Regions from separate parts of the Homo sapiens genome. Here region 2 is linked to region 1. The links come from fine-mapping of genetic effects on gene expression. A gene starts in region 1. The other region holds a variant in brackets. All regions are shown on one strand. Distances are from middle to middle. Region 1 holds the start of SMIM35 (small integral membrane protein 35). Region 2 overlaps SMIM35 (small integral membrane protein 35).

The links.
Region 2: its variant is fine-mapped to the expression of SMIM35 in whole blood (INTERVAL, PIP above 0.99).

What each region holds. Positions count from the first base shown.
Region 1 is chr11:118,082,980-118,092,399 of GRCh38, reverse strand. SMIM35 (small integral membrane protein 35) reads left to right here and starts at 5,437. Exons shown (of 5, transcript NM_001394165.1): 1 at 5,437-5,649. The coding sequence starts at 5,643. The region is part of intron 1 of TMPRSS4 (transmembrane serine protease 4); the gene reads right to left. It overlaps LOC105369517 (a long non-coding RNA gene), which reads left to right. Exons shown (of 4, transcript XR_007062904.1): 4 at 1-113. RefSeq lists a silencer at 8,912-9,206.
Region 2 is chr11:118,059,780-118,069,199 of GRCh38, reverse strand. The region is part of intron 1 of SMIM35 (small integral membrane protein 35); the gene reads left to right. It also overlaps the pseudogene RN7SL828P. Among named protein-coding and RNA genes, the nearest start is that of TMPRSS4, 13 kb to the left of the region's middle. RefSeq lists an enhancer at 4,107-4,608. The variant G/A (reference allele first, on the strand shown) is at 3,967.

The sequences.
Region 1 (9,420 bases):
AGCATTCCTGGCTCACTGGCTTCCCCCCACCCACCAAGTTATCCTTAAAAACTCTGCTCCCTGAATGCTTGGGGAGATTGATTTGAGTACTAATAAAACTCCAGTCTCCCACACAGCTGGCTCTGCGTGAATTACTCTTTCTCTATTTCAATTCCCCTGTCTTGATGAATTGGTTTTGTCTAGGCAGCGGGCAAGGTGAACCCCTTGGGCGGTTACACCATCCTCTGCACTTCTGTAGCATTTGGTACAGGTGTTTATCACAGGGCTTCTCTCATAGGGTGGTCAGCGTTTCCTTTCCTTTTTTCTTTCTTTTTGGTTGCTTTTTTAAATTTAACATTTTATTTTTAATTAGCCACTCTTTCTCATTGCCTTTGTACCCTTGCTGTTTAGCACCAGGCTAGTACCTAGTAAAAACTTAATAAATGACTGTGAACTGGACTGAACTTTGAGCTCTGCATTGTAGTTCATTCCCGGCCGTCTCTCCTCCACCATCACCAGGGCTGGATAGAGCAGACTCTTTCCAGGCTGAAGATGAGACCCAATCGGACGACTCTGCATTGTTGCAGCTAGAGTCAAGTTAGGATAACGTCAACAGTAATTCACACCCAACTGGCATGTAACAGTTTACAAAGTCCTTTCATCTAACTCTTGTCTAGTCAAGTCGATATCAATTGTCTGCCAACCAGGATGGGCAGCATTAAAGAATTAATTATTAAACTAAACAAATGCTTGTAAAGCATCTACATTGTACCAGGCACTACTCCAGGAGGATTCAAAGACAGATCAAGAAATCATCCCAGCAAGATGGGGAAAATAGTGCCCAAAGAAGACAGCCGAGGGTCTGTCCCCAAGAAGCTTGTTTCTTGGTGGAGAGGAGGGCTAGGGGAAGGGGGAGGACAGGCCATAAACAGATAAACCAGAAAAGATCAGAGAGGGGTAGGTGCTATGCAGGGAGTAATCCAGGGTGAGAGGAGACAGCGCCTGGATGCAGACTGAGAATGGGAGCTCTAGGGAGGGGCTCAGGATGGTTACGGAGGATCTTGCTGGTCTCCCTAGAGGAGGTGACAAGAAGGAGCCAAGTGGGAAGGAACAAGCTTGGGGGGTTGGAGGAACTGAATAGAGATGGGCATGGCTGGAGCAAGGCAAGGGCATAAGGAGAGAGGAGGTTGGTGGTAAAAAGACGCCAAATGTGTTTGGAAGATACAAACAATAGGCCTCGCCGATGGATTGGGTGTGCTTGGGTTTTAGTTACGTGGGTGAGAGGGTGCTTGCTGAGCTGTGGGAGGCTATAAGAGTGGTTGGTGGAGCAGGGAAGTGGGCCCTTTCCTGTCAATTCATTCTTTTCCACTGAGTCTACCTGTGCATGCATGCCTGCATTCATTGAGGTAGGTAGGGCAAGTTTCTTTTGTTTATTGTTAATTTAACAAATATTGACTATACAACTTTGATGGACCCGGAATAGTGCTAGAAGCTGAGGCACAAAGGAGGCTTATATTCTGCACTTTCTGGGGCCTTGGATTCCTCATCACTGAACTGAACAGTGGCTAATTTTGTGTGTGTGTGTGTGTGTGTGTGTGTTTGTGTGTGTGTGTGTGACAGAGTGAGAGAGAAAGAAAGAGAGAGAGACAGAGTCTCATTCTGTCGCCCAGGCTGAAGTGCAATGTTGTGATTTCAGCTCACTGCAGCCTCCACCTCCTGCGCTCAAGGGCTCCTCCCACCTCAGTCTCCTGAGTAGCTGGGACTACAGGCATGCACCATCACGCCCAGCTATTTTTTTTTTTTTTTCGTAGAGATGAGGTATCACTGTATTGCCCAGGCTGGTCTCGAACTCCTGGACTCAAATGATCTGCCCACCGCAGCCTCCCAAAGTTCTGGGATTACAGGTGTGAGCCACAATGCCTGGCTCTTAATATGTTTTCAATTGCTATTCACTGAGTAGTAGTTGTGGAAAAAAATTCTATCCCTGTTTGAAACCAAAAGAGAGAAAGAAAAAATAAACTAAAGCAAAACCGTAAGCTAGAATGACAGGGACTGTGACTATCTTGTTAACTGTGATATCCCTGATGTCTCCTACAATGCACAGTACATAATGAGTATTGAAAAAATATTTGTTGAATGAAAGAATTAATGAAAATATCTCAGTTTGAGGACTCAGCCTCAGCTCAGTCTTTACGAACCTGACTGGTATATTCACACAGTGACATATTAGGCTGCAGTCAAAACAAATGAACTGTAGTGACACAAAATAATATGGATGGGGCCAGGTACGGTGGCTTACACCTGTAATCCCAGCACTTTGGGAGGCTGAGGCGGGTGGATCTGACGTCAGGAGTTCGAGACCAGCCTGGCCAACATGGTGAAACCCTGTCTCTACTAAAAATACAAAGATTAGCCAGGTGTGGTGGCACGCGCCTGTAATCCCAGCTACTCAGAAGGCTGAGGCAGGAGAATCCCTTGAACCCGGGAGGGGAGGTTGCAGTGAGTGAGATGGTGCCACAGCACTCCAGCCTGGGGGACAGAGCAACACTCCATCTCAAAATAATAATAAGGATGATATTAGAATGTAATATTAAGGGAAAAACTTAGTCCCAAAAGATTACATATAGCACAGAATCTTTTCTATAGAGAAGCAAGGGAATGATGAATATGGGGTTTGGGAAGAACTTACTTGGGCAGGGAGCTTGTAGTACAGTCCCTGCCTATCAAATATGTATAGCCAATATTTGTCGAATTAATAAACGAAAGACACTTGCTCTACCCACCTCAGGAGAGGGATGGATATGTGTGTGCAGGAGTGGGAACCTCATGGTTAGATGTAGGTTACTATTAAGTCCAGCTTTTGTTGGGGATGATGGGTTTATGGAGGCTTATTACATTGTTAAATCCAACTAACTAGCAAGTTACAAATGGGCCCTGCATGGACCAATAGTGAAAAAAGTCATGAAGCAAGGATTCTAGTTCCCCCAATGCTATGCACCCAAGGCTCAAGGAAAACATAAAAAAGCCATCACCTGGCTATGCTGAGTGGCTTGAGGAGGTCAAACTCATGTCCTCACCATGCTCTGCCCTTACTGTTGTGCTGCCTGAGTTTCCCCATGAGTAGCTCATTCTTTGGCTTTTCTTGAAGCTCTTTGGCAAATATCTGTGACACAGACAGGTCAGAGCTGATGGACAGATACACCTTTGGAAGAGGAGCTGCAGAAGGTCACGAGTACTGGGGCTCATGGGCAGGGAGGTAGGTGCATTTTAGGCCTGTGAGTGTCAACTGGGGGCCATCAATGTCGATGACATCCCTGAGCAGGATAGAAATAGGGACTTATGGCCAGCTGCATCTCCTCTGAGCCCAGAAGCAACAATCCTGAGCTAAGGAAAGGAGAGAATGGGTCTGAGAGATGTGGGTACCAGGTAAAATTCAGAGATCCAGCCAGACCCCATCACCATGGTGGGTCCCCGCCATGATCAGAAGATGCAAAGCTGAAACAAGGCAACTTCCTTATTTTCAGATGAGAAAACAGAGGTCGGATAGAATTGTCTTAACCTGGAGTTAATAGAGGGAAGGAGGAAGTTGAGAGGTCACCAAACAACACATGTGCTTCCTTCTGCTTTGCTGGAGATGTATTTATTTACCCCCAGCTTGAACTCAGCTTCTGCCTACAACTGTTACAGCCCCGGCCCAGCCCAGACCAAGCAAAGGCATTGGCCTTTCCCTTTCTGTTTGGGCCACTGGCTGGGCCAGGCCTGTCTTCTCTGTTGATTCAGTCTGCCGCAGAGCCCTGACTCATGGGTCCAGCCCAGCCAGTGTCTGACCTGGGGCTCATCCGGGAATGAAGCTCCTGCTGTGTGCAGTACAGTGGAAGGGCAAGAATGCCCAGGCCCCCAGGGCCCAGGTAGCGGGTGAGGTGGGGAGGTGGAAGTGGGTGGGTGTTCAATCACTGGAAAACCTGCCATTGCCTGATCAACTCAGAGAATCTTCTTTTCCTGCTTCTCGGTTTGTCACCGGCAGAGGAAGACATTAATCCAAGACCCAAATATGGAGGCAGAACCATTAGTTATTGCAGTTGAGTATTATTATATAATTTACGATGTCTTTCTTTCATAAATGCTGTCCTATATAATCCATGGAACAACCCTGAGAAATTGTCCCCATTTTACAGAAAAGGCAGCTGCTATGGCTTCGGAGCAAGTAAGGAACAGATCTAGCCCTTTGGGCCGGGTTTCTGGACTTGGTGGACTGTTGATTTCATTTCCCCATGGTTTCAGGAACTCATTTCGGTAACAGTCATTAGCTGGTGCTGGGTCCTTTTGAATCACTCCTCCCTTGCAATGCAGCCTTGTTGGATATAACCAGCATGCAGTCATCATGCAGAGATTGCCCCCAGCATCTCTCCAGCTCTTCCTCGGTGTGAAGGTAGAGTGACTTTGCTCAGTTCTGGGCTCTGCCATATCATCCATGAATGCGGTCAAGAGACCTCAAAGAGCATGTTGGGAAAGGGGCCTATTGCAGGGCTTGGTTCCCAGGAGGGGCTTTATTGATATTAGCATTTGTTCTTCCCTTTCTTCCATAAGTTCCCACCTTTCTCACCTGCCTCTTCTTCCTTTATTCCTATTCCCCACCCCTACCACTGTTTTAGATCATGGGGAACCTCCTGGTTGGGCTTAGCTCAGCTCCAAAAAGCAAACAGACATCTTAAGGTCAACTTCCTTTCCAGCTCAGAGAGAATGAACCCAGATACAAGGCAGCTCTTGTTTTTAAATGGAGTGAAGCTTAAGTGGCTGCAGAGAAGCCACAAAGTGTGCTGCAGAGAAGCCACCAGCCTGGAGAGTATGAGTTCTCATCTTGCCTTGTCTTCTGACTTGCTGTGTGGCTTTGGGCACACTCCTCAATGTCTCTGAACCTCAAGATCCCTTTGGGTAATTGGGAACTGCCCTTCAGAGATGGGATGAAAGAGTTAATAACCTCATAATGAAACAGGCAAGTCCACCAGGCTAATAAGGAGAGGAAGAAGAGGCGGCAGCTCAAGGAGGCCAAAGGAACAGAAAGCTCGGCCAGCTCCTGTCTGCCTCCCTTGCCAAGCATCCTGTCCCTGGGGCCTGATTTCTCTCTTCCTCTCTGCAATGCTGACTTGGCATTGACTTGCTCTGGAAAGAAGTCAGTAAGGGCAGAGCTGGAATGACTGGAGTGTGGACAAAGAGAGAAAAGCAGGGGCACACAAAAGAGGGTGACAGCTTCAGTCTTCCCTGGAGTCCAAGGCCCTGGCTTCCCATGGTCTCATAGGAAAACCTAGAGCCAGAGATGGTGCTGTTGCTAGGTGATGGGATAAACAGGTCCTTTGAGGCTTGGGCAGGTGGCAGTTAGGTTGCTGAGGCCAGTAATAAGCAGTGGGGAAAACCCAAGGGAGGGGGTGGGGAAAGTTCTTCGGGTAAGCCAAGAGACCCAGAGGTGCTTGCCGTCAGCTTGCAGAGTGGGGCCCGGCCACAGTGCTCCTCTGAGGGAGCCTCACTCTGCTCTCTGACCCCAGAACCTGCATCCCTCCCCAAAACCAACGGCAAGCAGCTGTGTCCTCTCCACTTGCAGCTGGAATAGGCAGTTTGATGCCTTTGCTGCGCTGGCAACAGGGCTCTCTCTCTTGGATGTCTCAGCCATGACAGGTAAGGAGAGGGTCACTGAGGGCTGGAAGATCATGGGGCAGGAGAGGAGGGAGTGAGTTTCCTGAGATGAGCCTGGTGGTGATGCAGCAGCCCAGAGTGCATGGGAGGTCCTCAGAGATGACTGATCATGCCGACTTCCAAGTATCCTGGGATCGCACCTGTTACTCTGTCTCTAGGCAGGTCGGCCACCAGCCCAGGCCATATGCCGCTGGGCATCTAAGCTCTCACGCAGAAATTCAGGGAGCATCCTCACAAACACTGCCTTGCGTTGAGTCATTATTAGAGCAGCACTTTTTCCTTTGGGTCTAACCTCAGCCTTGGCTGCTACATTAGAAACCATTTTGCCTTGTTCTAAACCACATAGGTGCTGACCTATTGGCAATTTGAGCCGAGCACCTCATCCCCCATCTCAGCACATAATGGCTCCAGGGCAGGGCCTGGGGCAGAAGGGAGGAGTCAGGCAGCCTGCCATTATCCCCTGCCAGCCTGCTGTTCAGCTCCCATCATTTAAGAATCAGCTTTTGTGTTCGGGCATAGCTCTTAGGTTCAGATAGGGCTGGGGAGGCAGGGAAGATGTAACTATTCCTATTTCACAAATGGAGAAACTGAGGCACAGCGCTTATGCTTTTTCCCCAGAGACAATGTGAAGGGCAGGAGTGAGGTATTTGTACATGCCCCTTGGGCTAAATTAAACTGAAGACAGACCTGGTTCCCACTGGAGGGCCCTGCTTCCAGGTGATGCTGCTGTTTACTGCAGTGCTTAGGAATCCCTCTGCGATCCTTCTCTTTGTCCTAGGGGAAGCAGCCCATTCTCTCCCACCTTTCTGAACTCTCAACAGCTCTACTTTGCTCAGCTTTCCCTCTGTTCCAGAGTGGTGGGTCCATCTGAGCCCACCTTCCCCTCCTGGAAGGGTCTGATAGGAAGGAAGGTGCCACCATCTTTGCACACCTGAGGACAATGCCTGGACAATGGCTGGAGGGGACTCGAGAGGGCCAGAAGGGGTCCCGCCACACAGTTCAGCCTTTCAGCCTGGCAGGGACCCTCATGGGTTTGCCATTGGGAAGGGCTGATGGATTTTAAAGCTTAGAGGGGTTCTCTCAACCTTGCAATTTACCTGAACTGAGGACCTGCCATCCATGGAGCAGTCTGACGTTAATTTAAAAAGGTTCAAAGACAGAGTTTATACCATCTTTCAAGAATCGTACTCACTTTTGCTTGTCCTGAGTTGTCCTTTAAACTTTAAGAGGGAGGGAAATGGCAGGGAGGGAAAAGGAACTGATTGGGACTGACTCCAGCCAGGAGTTTGAGACCAGCCTGGCCAACATAGTGAAACCCCATCTCTACTAAAAATACAAAAAATTAGCTGGGCGTGGTGGCAGGTGCCTGTAATCCCAGCTACTCGGGAGGCTGAGGCAGGAGAATCGCTTGAACCTGGGAGGCGGAGGTTGCAGTGAGCCAAGATCCTGCCACTGTACTCCAGCCAGGGCAACAGTGTTAGACTCTGTCTCAAAAAAAAAAAAAAAGAAGAAGAAGATCTGACTCCTCCATCTGTAGAACAACTTTTGAGCAAGTCACTAAACAGCTCCTGGACCCAGTTTCCTTCTTTGGAATGTGGGTACAATAAAAGCGACTTCACAAGATGATGGGGAGAAAGATTCTGTAAGGTGCGCCACCTGCTCAGCACCGTGCACATTTTCAGCACCTTTGCAAGCCCCCAGGAGCCCCATCTGGTCTTTGCATGATTTTACAGACTTGCTCATAGTCCCCTAGGTTGGTCTTTGCAGTTTGAGGGGTCTCAGCTGCCTTGATCAGAAGGGGGTTGTCCCTTGATCCTGCTCCTCCTGAACTCTGAGGCAGGGACACTGGCCTGAATCCAGCTCTGCCTCTTCCCAGCCATGAAGTCTTGAGCAAGTTAATAAATTTTTCTGAGTCTCAGTTTTCTCATCTGTAAAATGGGGAGAATATGACTTAATTCACAGGGTTGTTGGTGAGAATTATTGATGACACATGTGATGTGCCTGGCTTGGTGCTTGAAACATAGAGGAGTTTAGTAAGTGAAAATTAGTGCTCTCTGCCCCAATTACCCTACAGGCATGGAGAGCAGAACTCCACACATGTTCAAGGAGGGTCTGTGCTGTGGTTCTGTACAGGGGCAGGGTTGAGGATTCTCGTTTGTTCTGGAGGCCCCAGTGATAACCAGCCTTGCTGGGCTGGTGTGGCTGCTGCAGCCAATCTCCTGGCACAGGTTTCAGTGACTCCTAGATCTGTTTCCTGTGAACTCTGAGCTCAGGATCCTATAAATAGTGCTTTAATAGTGCTTCAGTGTCTTCTCTGCCTCTCTGACTTTGCAGTTGCATAACCTGAAGTTCCTTTACTGCTTTCCTGCCCACTCACATAACTCGTCGAGTGCTTCATGAAGTTTTTCCTTGCTGAAATTACATTTGCTAGGAGAGGTTGTGTTTTACAGTGCACAGAGCACAGGCCGTGGAATCCTGCAGCCTAGGTCTGAATCCTGTTTGCTCATTGGCCTGAGGCTTTAGCAAGTTATTGAACCACCAAGAAACTCAGTTTCATGTGTGTGTGAAAAAGAGGGAGAGAGAGAAAGAGAGATGCAGTAAGTCTCCCTCCTAAGGAGCCCCAGATATGCATAGCATATAGTACATTGCCTGGTGCACGGTAAGAGTACGATAATTGTTTTTTTGTTTTGTTTTTGAGATGGAGTCTCGCTCTGTTGCCCAGGCTGGAGTGCAGTGGCGCTGTCTCGGCTCACTGCAACCACCACCTCCCAGGTAAAAGCGATTCTCCTGGCTCAGCCTCCAGAGTAGCTGGGATTACAGGCGTCTGCCACCACCGCCCAGCTAATTTTTTGTACTTTCACCATGTTGGCCAGGCTGGTCTTGAACTCCTGACCTCATGTGATCTGCCCTTTTCGGCCTCCCAAAGCGGGATTACAGGTGTGAGCCACTGCACCCAGCCAAGAGTACAGTAATTGTTAACTGTAATAATAATAACAACAACAATAATAGTTTACTCATTTAGTAAGGCAACTTTCTGGGCCCTGGAGACCTAGCAGTGAACCAGAGGTAAAGCTCTTTTGCCCATGGAGTATATTCTATTATTTTTATTAGTTATTAATAACAATATTAAAATAGAACTTGGGAAGTTCATGACATAGTAGATACTCATAGTCAAAAATTATTTATTGTTAATGGGAAGGAGCTTCATAGAGGGCCTGTCATGTATGTAATAGGAACTGAGCAAAGAGCGACTTTTATGATTTCATGGGCCCCGGGGCTTGGCTTCAGCAGGGGACTCTGTGGACTAAGCGCATCTGGGGACAGTGACCAGGGCAGTTGGGACCGGAGGTGATGTCGTGTGACCTGTGTGAACTCTCTCGGAAGAGAGGGTGGAACACGCAGTTCAGAGAAGCAAGGACCAGTGGAAGCATGAAAGCTTCAAGTGTGTGTGGCCGTCTGAGAAAGGCAAAAGACAGTTCTAGGAGGAACGGGGGAAGTTACAGAAAGTCTTTTCTCCTGGCAAAGGAAAGATTGTTTTCAGCAACCGTAGCTTCTAGAAACAGATGTGTGAGCAAAAGCTGGATTGTGAAGGTTTCTGTGGCAGACGAGGGCCAGGGTCAGATAAGGGCTCTGAGCACCCCTGGGGGATTCGACCGAGCCCCGCAGCGGCGCAGCAGAGGAGAGGGAGGCAGGGCAGAAGTGGCGGGGGTGGGGGACAGTCCTTTCAAACACTGCAGCTCTGTTTTTCTCTCT
Region 2 (9,420 bases), 23 kb after region 1:
GGAACTGAGGGGGTGGCCCGATACCTCACAGCCTGTACTTGGCAGGCAGACCCAGAGCACAGGTGCAGTGTGGGATGCTGGGGTGCTGGCATTCACAGATGCTGCTGATGCAGAATAGAGAGGACTGACGGGGGGAAGACCTGGGGATGATTCAGTTTTCCATTAGGGTGATGAGTCAATGGTGGTCCGTTAACAAATGAGTTCTTTGGGTTGAACCTGTTGGAAGAGAGAATGCTTTTAGATCGTCGTGGTTAGGCCTTGCCAAATCCCACGGATGATAATGTATTGATAATGCTGGTGGCTCTGGCTTGACTGAGTGCTTCTGGCCACGGAGTGATGCGTGGGGAGAGACCACGGCTCCTGGATGCCGCTGGGCCTCTGTGGGGTGGCCGAGAATGCAGACACAGTGCCGCCAGGTGGTGGAAGGTCACTCCGCTACCCCGGGTTTCTCGCTTTTCCCAGTAGATTTCATCTGCAGCCTGAAAGGCCAGCAGGAAACAGCGCTGTGAGGTTCCACATGCAGGTACCATCCTGGCTCACCCTCCCTCAGCCTCCCTCCTTCATCCTTGCCCCAGCTCATTCCCCAGGCTGCCTGCAGAGGGGTGGGTTCAGGCTGAGAATGAAAGTTCTTGAAACTGAAATCTTTGGGCCCAGACTGTCTCTTGGCCTCACCCCCGTCTCTGTAAAAGCCTCTCCTTCATCCAACGTTTACGAGCGCCTCTAGTGTGCTGGACACTGAGGACACAAAGATGAATAAGGCGCTGTCCGCAGCTCTTTCACAGGCCGGGAGGGAGACTCGACACAGAGATCGTGCTGTCATCCTGTTGGCAAACTCTAAGAGGAAAGAGCACACAGAGCCGGAGGGCTCCCTCCCCGAGGAGGGAGCATTTGGATTGAGCTTACGGGGAGGAGCAGGACTTTGTCAGGTGGAAAACCAGGGGTGCAATGGGAGGAAGAGCATCCAGTCCAGAGAGGAGGCTGTGTGCGCTGGGGAAATGGTGACTGACCCACAGATACTGAGCATCCTTTCTGTGGCAGCTTGGTGCTGGGACCGGGGAGATGAATCATACATGGCTCCAGTTATGAGAAACTCTTGCAATAGACATTTTCTTTTGAAGGATCTGTACACAGGTAAGGAATTTGGACACAGACCTTATGTACTGGAAGCCCCTAAACTAGAGTTCTTGTACCCAGAAATTATGCAAGACAAACCATTGGGATAGCGAAAAAATAGAGAAACTTCTATTTCTGTGTATTTCTTAACTAAAAACAAAGAAAACAACTAAACTTTTCATATATATATATATATATATATATATATATATATATATATATATATGTTTGTTGTTGTTTTGTGGTTGTTTTTTGAGATGGAGTTTCACTCCTGTTGCCCAAGCTGGAGTGCAATGGCGTGATCTCGGCTCACTGCAACCTCCATCTCCCGGGTTCAAGCGATTCTCCCACCTCAGCCTCCCGAGAAGTTGAACTATAGGCGCACCACCACACCTGGCTAATTTTTTGTATTTTTAGTAGAGACGGGGTTTCACCATCTTGGCCAGGCTGGTCTTGAACTCCTGACCTCAGGTGATCCGCCTGCCTTGGTCTCCCAAAGTGCTGGGATTACAGGCATGAGTCACTGCACCCAGCCAATTTTTTTTTAAGAGACAGGGTATCGCTATGCTGCCCAGGCTGGAGTGCAGTGGCTATTCACAGGCATGATCCTACTACTGATCAGCACGGGAGTTTTGAGGTGCTCCATTTCCCACCTGGGCCAGTTCACCCTACCTTAGGCAACCAGGTGGCCCCCTGCTCCTAAGAGGTCACCATATTGATGCTGAACTTAGTGTGGACACCTGATGAGCATAGCAAACCGAGGCCCAGAACTCAAGTGAGGACTCAAATGATCTTCCTGCCTCAGCCTCCCGAGTAGCTGTGACTACAGGCACGTGCCACCGCACCTGGTGCATTTGTAATATTTAATGTACAGGTTGGCCTCGTGTCTGCACTTGGACCCTGTGTCAATGGCCCACATGTTGTGCGCATCTGCGAGGGTCTGAGGGGGTTAGCATATTGTGACATGTTTACACATGGTCTGTGAAGTGGATTTCTCGGTGATCTCATCTGGTTTTAACTAAATTAATCCTCACACAATGGACAAGGTATTTAGGAAATTTCCTGAAAAGATATCAGGGATTAAGAGAAGGATGCAGGCAAGCACAAGCAAATGGCCAGGCTCTTGCTCCCCTATTCGGAAGGGGCTCCCATTATCTTTCTATCTTGAGTGTAAAATTGTAACAATCTCATTTTACTTGATAGAAACTGGCAAAAAAAAAAATCCAGAATTATCAAGATAATGTTTTGATTTTTTTTTTTTTAAGTCAAGGTCTCACTCTGTCACCCAGGCTGGAGTGCAGTGGCAGGATCACGACTCACTGCAGTCTTGATCTCCTCAGTTCAAGTGATCCTTTTGCCTCCTGAGTAGCTGGGACTCAGGCATGCCACCATGCCCGGCTAAGATAATTTGAAGTATAGTCTCAAGTCTCCTGATGTTAGTACTACTCTGTCTTTCAGGGTGTATTATGCCTTCAGATATTGGCTAGTGATGGTAATGTATGTAAATATAATTTATACATAAATACATATATTAGAGATGTGTGCTAAAATTCTTTTGTTACTGACAGAGATCAAAGAACTTTGGAGACCACAGCTCTAGGTAATAAGGAGCCAGTAGGAGTTTAAGCAGGAGGATGACTTGTTTGTTTTTGTTTTATTTTGAAAGATCATTCTGGTAGCTGTGTGGATGGAGAGCCTGGGGTAGAGAGAATAGTAGGGAACTCATGCAGCGGTCCAGGTGAGAGATGAGATCCCAAACCCAGGGTAGGGCAGCCAGGAGGGCAGAGCAATTTCACATGCACGTTGGACTTGGTGACTGACTAGATTTGGAAAACAAGGGCGAAGAGATCCAATCCCGGGGTATTTCCAGGTGTCTGGGGGATTAGGCAAATAATAGTACCACCTACCAAGGTGGCAAACAGAGGTGGGTTTGGGGAGAAAGGTGAAGAGTCTGGGACTGAACAGTTTGAGTCAGAGGTGCCAGGGAGAGCCCTGGGTGGAGGTCGTACGTCCGGGGGGTCCTGTGGCTGGTTTGGGGCTGCAGCCCCCTCTTCCCCAGCAGGGCCCAGGTGAGCGAGCGGGCTGGGTCATGGTCATGATGAGTAAATCAGGCAGTAATGGTGTCCTCTGTCCAGACCTCCTGATTCTAGCCTGGTCACTGGGTGCTGCATCCCAGGTATCAGACCCTGATTGTTACCAGTGGAGGGTGTCCTGATTCTTTGTGCTTCGAACAAAGAATTGGACAAAACGCACAAAGCAAGAAAATAATGAAGCAACAAAAGCAGAGATTTAATGAAAACAAAAGCACACTCCACAGGGTGGGAGTGGGCTGAACAAGAAGCTCAAGGGACTGGGTACAGAATTTTCTGGGGCTTAAATACCCTCTAGAGGTTTCCCATTGATTACTTAGTGTACACCCTATGTAAATGAAGTAGAGGACCACAATCAGTCTGATTGGTTGTGGAGAGAGACCAACCAGAGATTGAAGTGAAGTTACAAAGTTACACCCTATGCAAATGTCTGATTCGCCTGTGGAAAGTGACCAGAGGCTAAAGTGAAGTTACAAAGTTATACTCCTATGCAAAAGAAAAGTTGGCCAGCGACGGAAGGTGTGAAAGTTGGGGTTTTCCTTTTGATTTAGTTCTAGGAAGTCAGTATGAATTGGCCTTAGGTTCCCTGCCTCCAGGCCCTATTCTCCTGCCTCATGATCACTCTCTATATTTCACTTTTGCAAAACCACTCAAAATGCAGGTACCCTGTCTTCCTCCTCCTGTGAGCCATCATGGACGTGACAAGGCTACCTCTTCACGGTGCTCTAGGCCAAAGCTTTGGGAAAGCCAGATTAGGCTGGGA[G/A]TGTCCTTGCTGTAATCGGATGCTGAGATAAGCAAAGTGAAATGCAGTGGAGAAGCAGGTGGGGCAGGGCAGGTTTGGGCGCTGTGCAGCTGCCTAGGCTGGGGAGGGACGGGTGTTTGACCACGCAGAAGGGCTCTACAGGGCCACGCTTTAGGACAGGAATATGCATTCTGGCCTTATCTGGTCATTTCTGAGTTGGGATATCTGGATCACTCCAGGGCAGGGTGTGCTTGACTCAGAGCCCACTCGGGGCTTGACCCAGAGAAGGCTAGCGTTTAATATTAGTGATGAAGGCTGGGCATGGTGGCTCACGCCTGTAATCCCAGCACAATTCCGCCAGGCGGGTATATCGCTTGAGTCTAGAAATATGAGACCAGCTTGGGTGATATAGCGAAACCCTATCTCTACTAAAAATTACAAAAAGTAGCCAGGCGTGGTGGCACATGCCTGTAGTCCCAGCTACTTGGGAGGCTGAGGTAGGAGGATGGCTCGGACCCGGGAAGTAGAGGTTGCAGTGAGCCAAGATCTTGCCACTGCACTCCAGCCTAGGCAACAAAGCGAGAACCTGTCTCAATAATAATAATAATAGTGATGAAAAAAACAACAAAAAATCTCCACCCCTGAAAAAACAGACAAATAACAATAACAAAAGCCAGGCACGATGGCACATGCCTGTAGTCCCAGCTACTCAGGAGGCTGAGGGAAGAGGATATCCTGAGCCCAGGAATTTGAAGCCAGCCTGGGCAACATAGGGAGATTTCTTCTCTTAAAAAGAAAACAAACAAAACCCTTTAGTATTAGTGATGACTCTGAGGATGACACCCAGAACCGCCAACCTGAACCTCCGGTGGGACCTTGGGGTCCATGTGGATGGGGAACACAGTGTATGAAATCAATGGCAGATTGGTGCCTATCTGATCTCCCATTTAAAATTTTTTCTTTGCAAGAGAAAAGAAGAGTGATATAGATTGGTGTGTTAGGAAAAAACTCAAACTCAATTTTCCCCTTGGTTCTCACGCCACAATCATCAACGCAATAGACTTCTGTGACCAAATGCCTGGGGGTTCTCCCCACACACCAGTAAGCAATCATTTCTGCAGCAGACACTGGCTGACACTTCGAGTCAACTCAATTCCCACACTATCTACCAGATAGCAACAGATCCTATGGTTGATGAGGGCTCAGTGCCACAAGACCGCAACTCCCTTCCCACCAGTTACAAATCTAGGCCTCTGGACCTTCTAGCCAATTGTTCTTCATTTGGGGTTCCCACAACTCCCTCATTTGCTGGAGTGACTCAGAGAACTTAGGAGAACACTTACCTTTACAGGTTTACTATAAAGGATATTACGAATGATACAGAAGAAGAGATACGTAGGGTGAGATATGGGGTAAGGGACACGGGGCTTTCATGCCCTCCCGAGTCGGGTCCCCTTCTGGAAACCTCCACCTGTTCAGCTACCTGTCCTTTTTTAGGCTTTTATGGAGACTTCGTTACATAAGCATGATTAATTAAGCCACGGGCCATTGGTGATCAACTTACCCTCCAGCCCCTCTCCCCTCCCCTAAGTTTAGGGGTGGGGCTTAAAACCCAACCTTCTAATCCTGCCTTGGGCTTTCTGGTGATCAGCCCCTGATCTACCTGAAGCCACCTAGGCCCTTCCAGGCCTCAGTCAGCTCATTAGCACACAAAAAGACAACCTTTGGAGTTTCTAAGGACTTTAGGAGTTGTATGCCAGGAAATGGGGCTGAGGACCAAATATATTTACCACAATAGGCAAAAAGATTCAACATGAAGAGGGTAAAGAAGATTTAGAAATAAAGACAGAAAAATGCAGACGAGAGAGACAGTAAACAGAAAGAGTAGAAAGGTAAGCAGAAAATCATCAACTGAAAGAAACAGAAAGAAGAGTAGAAGTGTTATAGGAAAGGGGTCCCCATCCAGACCCCAAGAGGGGGTTCTTGGATCTCACCCAAGAAAGAATTCAGGGCAAGTCTGCGGTGCAAAGGGAAAGCAAGTTTATTAAGAAACTAAAGGAATAAAAGAATGGCTACTCCATAGACAGAGCAGCCCCGAGGGCTGCTGGTTGCCTATTTTTATGGTTATTTCTTGATGATATGCTAAACAAGGGGTGGATTATTCATGCCTCTTCTTTTTAGACCAAATAGGATACCTTCCTGACTTTGCCATGGCATTTGTAAACCGTCTTGGCGCTGGTGGGAGTGCAGCAGTGAGGACGACCAGAGGTCACTCTTGTCGCCATCTTGGTCTTGGTGGGTTTTGGCCAGCTCCTTTACTGCAACCTGTTTTATCAGCAAGGTCTTTATGACCTGTATCATGTGTTGACCTCCTATCTCTTCCTGTGACTTAGAATACCTTAACTGTCTGGGAATGCAGCCCAGTAGGTTTCAGCCTTATTTTACCCAGCTCCTATTCAAGCTGGAATTGCTGTGATTCACATGCCTCTGACAGAATTAAGAGAGAGAGAAAATAAAAGAGGCAACAGAAAAACAGATGGAAGTCAACGAAGAGGCAGAAACTCAGAGACACAAAGAAGGCAAGGGTGCAGGGGTGTGGAGGGAGGGCCAGGAGAGGGTTGGGAGGGATGAAGCCCTTGTCCTGGGTTCCTTCTTTCCCCATCCACATGCCCTGTTCTCCGTTGCAAATGGAAGAAGCCAGAGCCCAAGTGAACCACCTGTCTCCATTGTTGACTCCCAGCTGGTCTTTGAGAAGCATCAGAGGCAGTTGTCACCTTTGCTTTGGCCGGGAAGGAGCCTTCCAGCAGGGCCTGGAGAGGAGCTGGGCTGGCCTGTGGTCTTGGCCCCTGTGAACTGAAGGGAAGCCTGACTTGATGTATTAGCTCAGGGGTGCCTCTCTTGACCCACTTTTGTTTGTTTGTTTTTGAGATGGAGTCTCGCTCTGTTGCCCAGGCTGGGGTGCAATGGCACAGTCTTGGCTCACTGCAACCTCCACCACCAGGGTTCAAGTGATTCTCCTGCCTCGGCCTCCCAAGTAGCTGGGATTACAGGCACTCACCACCACGCCCAGCTAATTTTTGTATTTTTGGTAGAGATGGGATTTCGCCATGTTGGCCAAGCTGGTCTTGAACTCCTGACCTCAGGTGATCCACCTGCCTTGGCCTCCTAAAGGGATGGGATTACAAGGATGAGCCACTGCACCTGGCCCCACTTTCATTTTTGATGAAACAAAATTGGAAGCTTAGTTGGTGGGAGGTCAAGGACCTTCCAATTCCAAGGGGAGACTGAGTTGTAATGAACTTGGACCGAGGCAGTTGGTGGGGTTCTGCCCCATGTGGTAGGTGGCATTGTTACTTACACGCCAATGCTTTTGCTGTGGGCTGCAAAAGTGGGAATCCCTTGAGCAGGGAGGGTTGGTTTTGTGAAGTCAACTCATAATGGGGACAGAGGCTTGATGCTGGCTCTGTCTAGCATCATATCTAGTGAAAGAGTCACCAAAGAGCGGTCCTGGGTGCAGAGGAAATGGGCCCCGTAGATCCAAGCTAATCGGTGTCCAGCAGCCCAGGTCGCAGGAAGGGCTGTGGGGAACATAAGCAGGTTCTGCTTAACAGAGGTTGCCTCTGTGGAGGCCAGCAGGATCTGTGAGGTTTTCCCAGGGCTCAGGTGAAGTATCCCCCACCCCTCCCACTTCCTTTGATCCGACGGTGTTCGTCTGGTAACTTAGTTACTGATTCTGCTTCCCTGGAGCACTAATGCCAAGAAGAAGGTAGCTCCAGCTGGGGACCTGCCACTCTAGTCCCTGAAATAATTTACTACTTAAAAAATGTAATACATTGGCATAAAAGTAGCTAGAAATGCCACTTATTGAGGGAGAACTTGCTAAATGCCTTCTGTGAATCGATCATCCAATCTTTTCAATCTTGTGAGGTGGGCATTATTTTCTCCATTTCACCTACAGGGAAACACTCTCAGAACTGGGGTTTGAAGCTGGGTCTCTCTGCAGCTGAAGCTTGGAGTCTTAATCACCTCCCTTCTTGGAAGAGGCGGGGTTGAAAATGATGCTGGGCTTGCGCCTTGGCCTGTCTATAGCCTCTCAATCACTCCCACTGTGGGTGTCATGTGTCTGTCACGAGTGGCAGTGCAAGGTGTCCCGTTTTGGAACAAGCAGGGCCACGACCATATGCTAGAATGGGTGACTCAGCAGAAGCGGTGCCTCTGGGAGCCTCTGCTGGCCTGGACGCCTCCCACTGGAGTTCCTCAACCTGCAACCAGGACACTGTGATGTGAGGTCACAGGGCTGGAGAGGGGCAGCCTGGAAGTGCTTTCTCTGTCCCTCTCTTACTTATAGATCAAAAAAGGAAAATTAAAAGGGGGCCAGGGTGGGTGTCTGCCTGGGGATCCAAAGGATGAGGGCAGCCATGTGGGAGGGATGATGGGAGTACCCATGTCTGGCTGGTAAGAGAGACTTGGAAGCCAGATTAGAACCAGCATTCCAGGGAACCTGGAGCTGGCAGGGAATTAGAGGAAGGGGTGGCGAGGGGAACAGCCAGAGGGACACCCTGGACTCTGTAGAAGGGGGTCCCAGACAGCCATTTGCAGTTGCTCTCCCAGACCCCCGGGGGTCCAGAGGAACACAGGATGCTAAGCCTAGAAGAAAGGCGGCCAAGGACAGTCTCCCAGGTGAGCATGGCAGCTGTCCCTGGGTTTCCACCACTAAGGCTTCCCAGGGCTGCCTGGCCCCTGTCCTGCCCTCGCTGCCGGCCTGGGAAGAAAAGGCTGAATCGAAACAGACTGCAGCAAAACCCTGACTCATGCCTTCCGATGCCAGTAGACCTGATTTTGTATTTCCCAGCACTTTCATTAGCACCAAGAGCTATTATAATTGCAAGAGGTGTGTGGGGAGGTGGGAGTGGGTGCTCACACTCACAGCATGGGAAGTGGGGCTGAGACTCTTGTCAGGGGAGAAAGACCACAGCCTCCTACCCCATCCCCGTTCACCTGAGAGGTGGTGGGATGGGGAGTGGTCTGGGCTCTGGGCAGAGACTCTAGGCAGGCCACATGGGTGGGGGACCTGGAGGAGAGGCATGTGAGTAGATACGGCTTGAGGGAGCCCCTAGAGCGCGGGAATTGGGTTTTGATAAAGGGACTGGGCTTGGGCACAGCCCTGGCTGCCTCCTGGCACCCCACTCAGACTCCTCTCCTCCTGGGCCCTCACAGGTGGGTCTGCAGGTGTGTCTGCCAGGGCAGTACAGCCTCCACTCACTCCCAGGCTCAAGGCTATGAGATAAAATGCTAATCATTCCCTGCCTCTAGGTTCCTAGCTTGCTTTGGTACTTATCTTCCCTGTCACGGAGGGAGTGGGAGGCCTCTGATCCCTAGGCCGGCGTGGGAGCCGGAATTCTAGACAAGTTTATCCAGTAGGATTGAGCACCTCACCCTGTGTCTCAGATATGGTGGTTTGGAATAGCAGTTTGG